2 linked regions of the Homo sapiens genome follow. The protein of the gene in region 1 purifies or fractionates together with the protein of each later gene. This does not show direct contact. Each region holds a gene or a part of one and is shown on either strand. Other genes may lie near its edges. The genes, in order: SSC5D and PLXDC2.

The links.
Region 2: the proteins of SSC5D (region 1) and PLXDC2 purify together in Homo sapiens (affinity purification with mass spectrometry; one large-scale study listed by BioGRID and IntAct). This does not show direct contact.

Annotation. Positions count from the first base shown.
Region 1 is NC_000019.10:55,512,312-55,516,133, forward strand, and holds part of SSC5D (soluble scavenger receptor cysteine-rich domain-containing protein SSC5D isoform 1 precursor), read left to right. Parts: intron 1-699; coding exon 700-861; intron 862-3,822.
Region 2 is NC_000010.11:19,822,633-19,826,454, forward strand, and holds part of PLXDC2 (plexin domain-containing protein 2 isoform 1 precursor), read left to right. Parts: intron 1-3,822. UniProt on the Homo sapiens protein: May play a role in tumor angiogenesis.

The sequences.
Region 1 (3,822 bases):
ACATTTATATGTTATATAAAATTGCTATTATATAGAGATTAAGTGCATTTGGCCAAAAAAAAAAAAAAGGAAAAATAGTATTATAGAGATGTTCCAGGCAGTGAATTAATAAAGATGTTATGGTTTTTCCCCCGCTAGGGCAGGAGCCTTGAGGAATTAAAATAATAAATTCCTTTTTTTTTTTTTTTGAGGCGGTGTCTCGCTCTGTCACCCAGGCAGGAGTGCAGTGGCACAGTCTTGGCTCACTGCAACCTCTGTCTCCCAGGTTCAAGTGATTCTCCTGTCTCAGCCTCCCGAGTAGCTGGGATTATAGGCGTGTGCCACCATACCCAGCTAATTTTTTGTATATTTAGTGCAGATGGGGTTTCTCCATGTTGGCCAGGCTGGTCTTGAGCTCCTGACCTCAAGTGATCTGCCTGCCTCAGCCTCCCAAAGTGCTGGGATTACAAGCTTGAGCCACGGCGCCAGGCCCAAATGCCCTTCATTTTATGTGCTAGTTTAGTGACCGTTTCCGTCGTTGGTAGCCAAAAACATCCCAGCTGAATGGAGAAGGTCTCCACGAGGTCAGGTAGGGCTGCAGTGGCGGTGCAGTTGAGACGGGATGATGCCTGAACTGGGGCTGGCCCAGGAGGAGAGAGACGGGGAGTCAAACTCAAAGGGAAGTTGGAAGACTCAATCCTCTTCCCCATATCTCTCTAGGCAGCAAAGATGGTTACAAGCTTCCCTGGACGTGGGACACACCATCAGGAAGGGGCCTGGCTGAGGGGACCCCTACCGCAGGCAAACTAGGACCAACTCTTGGGGCTGGCACCACCAGGAGCCCAGGCAGTCCTCCAACTCTGAGAGTCCATGGAGACACAGGTGAGACACGTGGCTGGGGTGAGGAGACTGGGACGGTATTTGTCCTGGGGTAAAGAGACAGATTCCAGACTCCCCACTGGAACCCTTACCCCAGAAAGACTCAGCAGAAATATACCCTAAAACAAAGGGTTATCGGCTGAGCATGGTGGCTCATGCCTGTAATCACAGCACTTTGGGAGGCCGAGTTGGGAGGATTGCTTAAGCTCGGGAGTTTGAGAGCAGCCTGGGCAACATGGTGAGCCCCCCAAGATATGAACATTAGCTGGGTGTGGTGGTACGCACGTGTGGTCCCAGCTGCTTGGGAGGCTGAGGCAGGAGGATCCCTTGAGCCTGGGTGCTCGAGGCTGTGGTTGTGCCACTGTATTCCAGCCTGGGTGCCAGAGCGAGACCTTGTCTCAAATAAAGACAAAAACAGAACCAAGAGGTTATTATCTAGACCGCTGGTCATCAACTAGGGTCGATTTTGCCCCCAAGGGGAATTTGGCAATATCTGAAGATATTTTGGATTGTCATGGCAGGAAGTGAGAGGCTACCCATTGGCACCTGATCGGTAGAGGCCGGGGTGGTGATAAACATTCACAATGCACACGACATTCCCCATAACAAAGAACCACCCAGCCCTAAATTACAATAGTACCGAGGTTGAGAAACCCCAGCCTAGATGGCATAAGTCACTGTGACAAATAGGAAAATGATAGGAAACCCTAGATGAGAAAGAGGAAAACAGGTGATTCCCAGAAAAGGAAGCCCAAATGGCTGAGTGTATTTAGAAATGCCCACGCTCATCAGGAACCAGAAAATACAAATTAAAACAATGGCAAGTACAGAGGAGAATGAGAAAGGTGGGTATTATCCAGTGTGAGTGAGGATGTGGGAAGACAGGCAACCCCACTGGACAGAGCTGTTTGATAAAGACAATCCAGCAGTATTTAGTAAAGTTAAGCATGATTAGGCTGGCTGCAATGGCTGACGCCTGTAATCCCAGCACTTTGGGAGGCTGAGGCGGGCAGATCACGAGGTCAGGAGATCGAGACCATCCTGGCTAACACGGTGAAACCCTGTCTTTACTAACAATACAAAAAATTAGCCAGGCGTGGTGGTAGGCACCTATGGTCCCAGCTACTCGGGAGGCTGAGGCAGGAGAATGGCGTGAACCCAGGAGGCAGAGCTTGCAGTGAGCCGAGATTGCGCCACTGCACTCCAGCCTGGGCAACAGAGTGAGACTCTGTCTCAAAATAATAATAATAATAATAATAATAATAATAATAATAATAATAATAATAATAGGTGTGGTGGCAGGCGCCTGTAATCCCAGCTACTCGGGAGGCTGAGGCAGGAGAACTGCTTGAACCTGGGAGGCGGAGGTTGCAGTGAGCTGAGATCGCACCACTGCACTCCAGCCTGGGCAACAGAGAAAGACTCTGTTAAAAAAAAAAAAAAAAGAGAGAGAGAGAAGAAGGGAGGAAGGGAGAAAGGAGGGAAGGAAATCTGCATGAGCTCCATGACGTAGATCTATAATTTTGCCCATTTCTCAGATGAGTGAAATTGAGGCACAGACATCAGTGACTCTGACATCAATAATTATTAGAGTGCTTATTCCATGCTAGACATTACACTAAGTGCTTTGCACAACCATGGTCTCCCTGAGTCCTTTTGACAGCTCTGCAAGGGAGATACGCGGATCATCCACAGTCTATAGCTGAGGAAGAAACTGAGATTCAAGCAGTGAAGTAACTTGGCCGTGGTCACCCCGCTAGGAAGCCATGCAGCTGGGGTTTAAACTCGGACAGCCTGCCTTGAGCACAAGCCCTTTACTTAACCGCTTCTCCAATCCTGCAAACAAAGGACAAGGTGGGGAAGGGATGCGCCTGAAAGACCCTGCCCTGCAGGAACAAGTGGAAATCTGTAGATCTGTGTGGTTCAATACGGTAGCTAAGAGCACCGGGCATGGTGGCTCACGCCTGAAATTCCAGCACTTTGGGAGGCTGAGGCAGGCAGATCACCTGAGGTCGGGGGTTCAAGACTAGCCTGAACAACATAGTGAAACCCCATCTCTACTAAAAATACAAAAAAATTAGCTGGGCATGGTGGCACATGCCTGTCATCCCAGCTACTCAGGAAGTGGACACAGGAGAATCACTTGAACCCAGGAGGCGGAGATTGCAGCGAGCCAAGATCGCGCCACTGCACTCCAGCCTGGGCAACAGGAGTGAAACTCCGTCTCAAAAAAAAAAAAAAAAAAAAAGTTAAATGAATTAACACTTTGAAAATGAAACATTTGCCGGGCGCAGTGGCCACGCCTGTAATCCCAGCACTTTGGGAGGCCGAAGCGGGCGGATCACGAGGTCAGGAGATCGCGACCGTCCTGGCTAACACAGTGAAACCCCATCTCTACTAAAAATACAAAAAATTAGCAGGACATGGTGGCGAGCGCCTGTAGTCCCAGCTTCTCGGGAGGCTGAGGCAGGAGAATGGCATGAACCTGGGAGGCAAAGCTGGCAGTGAGGCGAGATCGTGCCACTGCACTCTAACCTGGGCGACAGAGTGAGACTCCGTCTCAAAAAAAAAAATAAAATAAAATAAAAGAAAATGAAACATTTAGTTTCTCATTCACACTGGCCGCATTTCAAGGGCTTGGTAGCCACATGTGGCCAGTGGCTACTGTATTGGCACGGTAGATCACAGCGCATTCCCATCACTGCAGATGTGAGATTTCATTGCCTAGACTCTATGTGCAAACAACTTGGGTTCAAGTCTTAGCCCTGCAACTTGCAAACTATGTCTGTGTGACCTTGGGCGAGTCACCTGCCCTCTTGCCCTAATTTCCCCCTTCTGTAAAATGGGGATAAAATTGGCACTCACTTGGAAGACAGCCCCAGAAGAGGGTCAGGCTCCTCCTGCTACTCAGGCCCAAAATTTAAGGGGGTGCCCAAAACGCCAAAATCAAGATACATAATATCA
Region 2 (3,822 bases), on another chromosome or scaffold:
TTACTATCTATTGTCTTTTTGACAATAGCCATCTTAATATTAGTAGGTGTGAGATGATACCTTATTGTGATTTTGATTTGTATTTCCCTAATGATTAGTGATGTTGAGGACCATGTCATATGCCTGTTGGCCATTTTTTTTGTCTTCTTTGGAGAAATGTCTTTTTTAGGCACTTTGCCTATTTTAATATCAGTTATTTACATTAAGCCTTCTGTTGATAGATAGGACTTTCAAAAAGTTTATTCCACTATTTTCCTATACTGCTAGTTTCTTTCTGGATGTTTACTTACTTTTTTTTTTTGAGACAGAGTCTCGCTGTTTCTCCCAGTCTGGAGTGCAGTGGCGCGATCTCAGCTCACTGCAAGCACCGCCTCCCAGGTTCACGCCATTCTCCTGCCTCAGCTTCCCAAGTAGCTGGGACTACAGGCACCCGCCACCACGCCCAGCTAATTTTTTGTATTTTTTAGTAGAGACGGGGTTTCACTGTGTTAGCCAGGATGGTCTCGATCTCCTGACCTCGTGATCAACCCACCTCAGCCTCCCAAAGTGCTGGGATGTTTACTTATGCTTTTAATTTAATATCTTAAAATATGATATACATATATATGTACATATGCATACATATATGGTGGTGGTGGTGTTTCATTTCACTGAAGATGAAGACTATTAAATAATTTTGGTTCTTTGTGGGATTCTTTTTGAATTAAACTGTTTTAGGCCTCATGTCACTAAACTATAATGAAGGAGGCTGTAAAAATATTGTCTCGGCTGGGCGTGGTGGCTCACACCTGTGATCCCAGCACTTTTTTGGGAGGTGGAGGTGGGTAGATCAAGAGGTCAGGAGATCAAGACCATCCTGGCCAACATGGTGAAACCCCGTCTTCCCTAAAAATAAAAAAAATTAGCCAGGCATGGTGGCATGCACCTGTAGTCCCAGCTACTCAGGAGGCTGAGGCAGGAGAATCGCTTGACCCGGGAGGTGGAGGTTGAGATTGCGCCACTGCACTCCAGCTGGGCGACAGAGCAAGACTTCATCTCAAAAAAAAAAAAATTCTCATAAAACTTGTTTTGAGGTGAGGTTCAGTGGCTCACACCTGTAATCCCAACACTTTGGGAGGCCGAGACAGGGGGATTGCTTGAGTCCACGATTTGGAGACCAGCCTGGGCAACATAGGGAAGAGACCTCATCTCTACAGTTTTTTTGTTTTGTTTTGTTTTGTTTTTAATTAGCTGTTCATGGTGGTGCACACCTGTAGTCCCAGCTACTTGGTAGGCTGAGGTGGGAGGATCACTTGAACCCAGGAGGTCAGGGCTGCAATGAGCTGTGATTACACCACTGCATTCCAGCCTGGCCAACAGAGTGTGACCCTGTCTCAAAAAGTAAAATAATAAAAAATCTTGCTGTGGGAGCTGTTACAGGGAAGCAGATGAGGATATTCTGCAATACATTTCACGGTGTCTGCTCCCCAAGATATTATGCCATGAGAAAATGAGAAAGAGAAAGAGACAGAGACAGGGTGAGAGACCTTATGTTTCAATAACAGACATAGTTCTTTTGAACTTGTTTGTGTCTTCTGGACATTATAAATAGTACCTAGGAGTTTTACCATTTAACTTTTGGTTTCTTGAAATCTCAGTGCAAGATTTGTGGCCCACCTCCAACAAGCATATAAACCTTCTGGCCTACATTTGTGTGCTAGCTTACCTATGTCTTCATCTTACCTTTTCTACCTTTTCTCACTTAAAATCTTGTTTGGTATTTGTTTTGGAGATGGGAAAAAAGCAAATAAAATTGAATCGCCATAATACATAAGGTTGTGTATCACTAAGTTGCTTTCCACTTTCTCTTAATCTGATGAATTCCAGCCCTTTGGCTTTATTCTGAGCACATTTTCCCAAAGCTGTAATTATCTCTGTAGAGTACTCCATTCTGAGAGGTCTTTCTTCACTGAGTTCACACAGGATATCTTCCCTCACTGCCTCCCACACAATGATTCTGTTAAGCTGAGGAAGTTACTAGAGAATGACAGGCTAAGTAGTGATGCTTTTATTAAGAAAGTTTCTTCCACTATTTATTGTGTTATACATTAACAGGATAATAGCTGACAAAAGATGAGAATATAAAATATTCCACATGTGTTTATAACCAGACAGTGAACTCATTTCATATTTATTGTTTGGTTTTATTTTCCTCTTTTTAATTAAAAAGGTGGTAAGCTGTGGAATGATGGTATAGATTTGTATATTTAAATAGAATTAGAGGTCTTGTCAGGGGCCTGTTTGGAATTAGCCTGTTAAGGATTACAGATCTGAACATGGGGTCAGACACTAAGTGACGTTACTGGATATCCAGACTTTTAAATCTCTTCTGTCAGAGGCCATCAAACCAGATCTAAGCGCTGGTACCTTTACCTTACCCTTCAAATTAAAATAGGCTGTCCTCACTCTTTCTGCTTGAGGCCTTATCATAGTTAGTGGTCTGTGAATTTTGTCAAGAGAGGGTCACAGGCCAAGATGCAGACTGACTTCCTTTTTACTTGTCTGGAATCTTATTACTCAGTTCCTCAATTATTTTTTACTCAATAATTGGACATTTTCCTTAGAATCCATGTTGTTCGAGGTCTCGTCCTGTAGGTAAGGTGTGTAGCTCATTGAGGCTTTGAGAATATGGAGAGAATGTTAAGAGTTTGCCCTATGGAAAAACTGCATAGGAATCCGAATATTTGAAAGTCAATTCTCTATGTATTCCTTGGAGTGTTCAGTGATACAAAAAGTCTAAATAAAACTGATATATTCTCTTTGAGTATGATGCTTGGTAAGTACACTCTGGTTCATTTTGCTTAGGATACTGTATTCTTGGGTCCAGCTGGAATATGGAACATTGAACATTCGATAATGTTTTTTGGGTAGTAGTTACAGATATCTGCTTACAGTAGCAACTGCTTACAGTAGTAACTCCTACCATTTTCTGTCTGAAACCATTATATGAACATCCAATAAAATATTTATTTCCCTAAAGCCTAAAAGGGAAGTAGGACAGGCAGAATTTATCATTTAGAGCATGAAATGTACCAATAATGATGAGTTTTAAGATGGGAAAGTATTTAAGGTACATTTCAGGTACTGCTCATGCTGAATCTATTATATCTATTTGCTGAATTCTTTCCAACATACAAACTTAGACTGTAGCTACCGCTGACCTAATGAACCTGGTTATTTATATGCTGTCTTTTTGTTCATTTGTCTGGTCAAAAGGGCCCACTCACCTTCCTGTGGGCATAGCTGGCGGGAGCAAGTCTGGTATTTCAGCTGACTTCTCCTTTTGGCTTTCTCTTCTCCTTCTCCTTTTGCTATCTTTTCTCTTCAATTCATTGAAAAATGTCTATATATAAATTACATAAATGCAATCTGCATTGCAAAATATCCCAATGAAAAGTATATATGAAATAATTTTTGGCAAACTGAGTCATGTTCTTAGTGGATATGGGTTCCTGTGATTTCAAGGAATGCTGTCCTGAACTTTTAATTTAAAAACATTCAACCTCCTAATTATTTTGCCAGTCCGTAGTTTTATGTTTAAGATTGCCCAAAATGTACTGCCTGTCCATAATTCTTTCAAGAATTATTGCTTCTGATATTAGCCATTTTAATTCTATTTACTATTTATATAGGTCCTGGGAATATACACCTTTGAATTTTTTGTTGTTGTCATTTAGCCCTTTAATTTGCTAATTCCAGGAAACAAAAATTGAACTAAGAGACATACCACTGTGTCTTTGCACTTTTTTTCTTGGTGCTTGTTTGGAGCAGAAACAGGAGGGT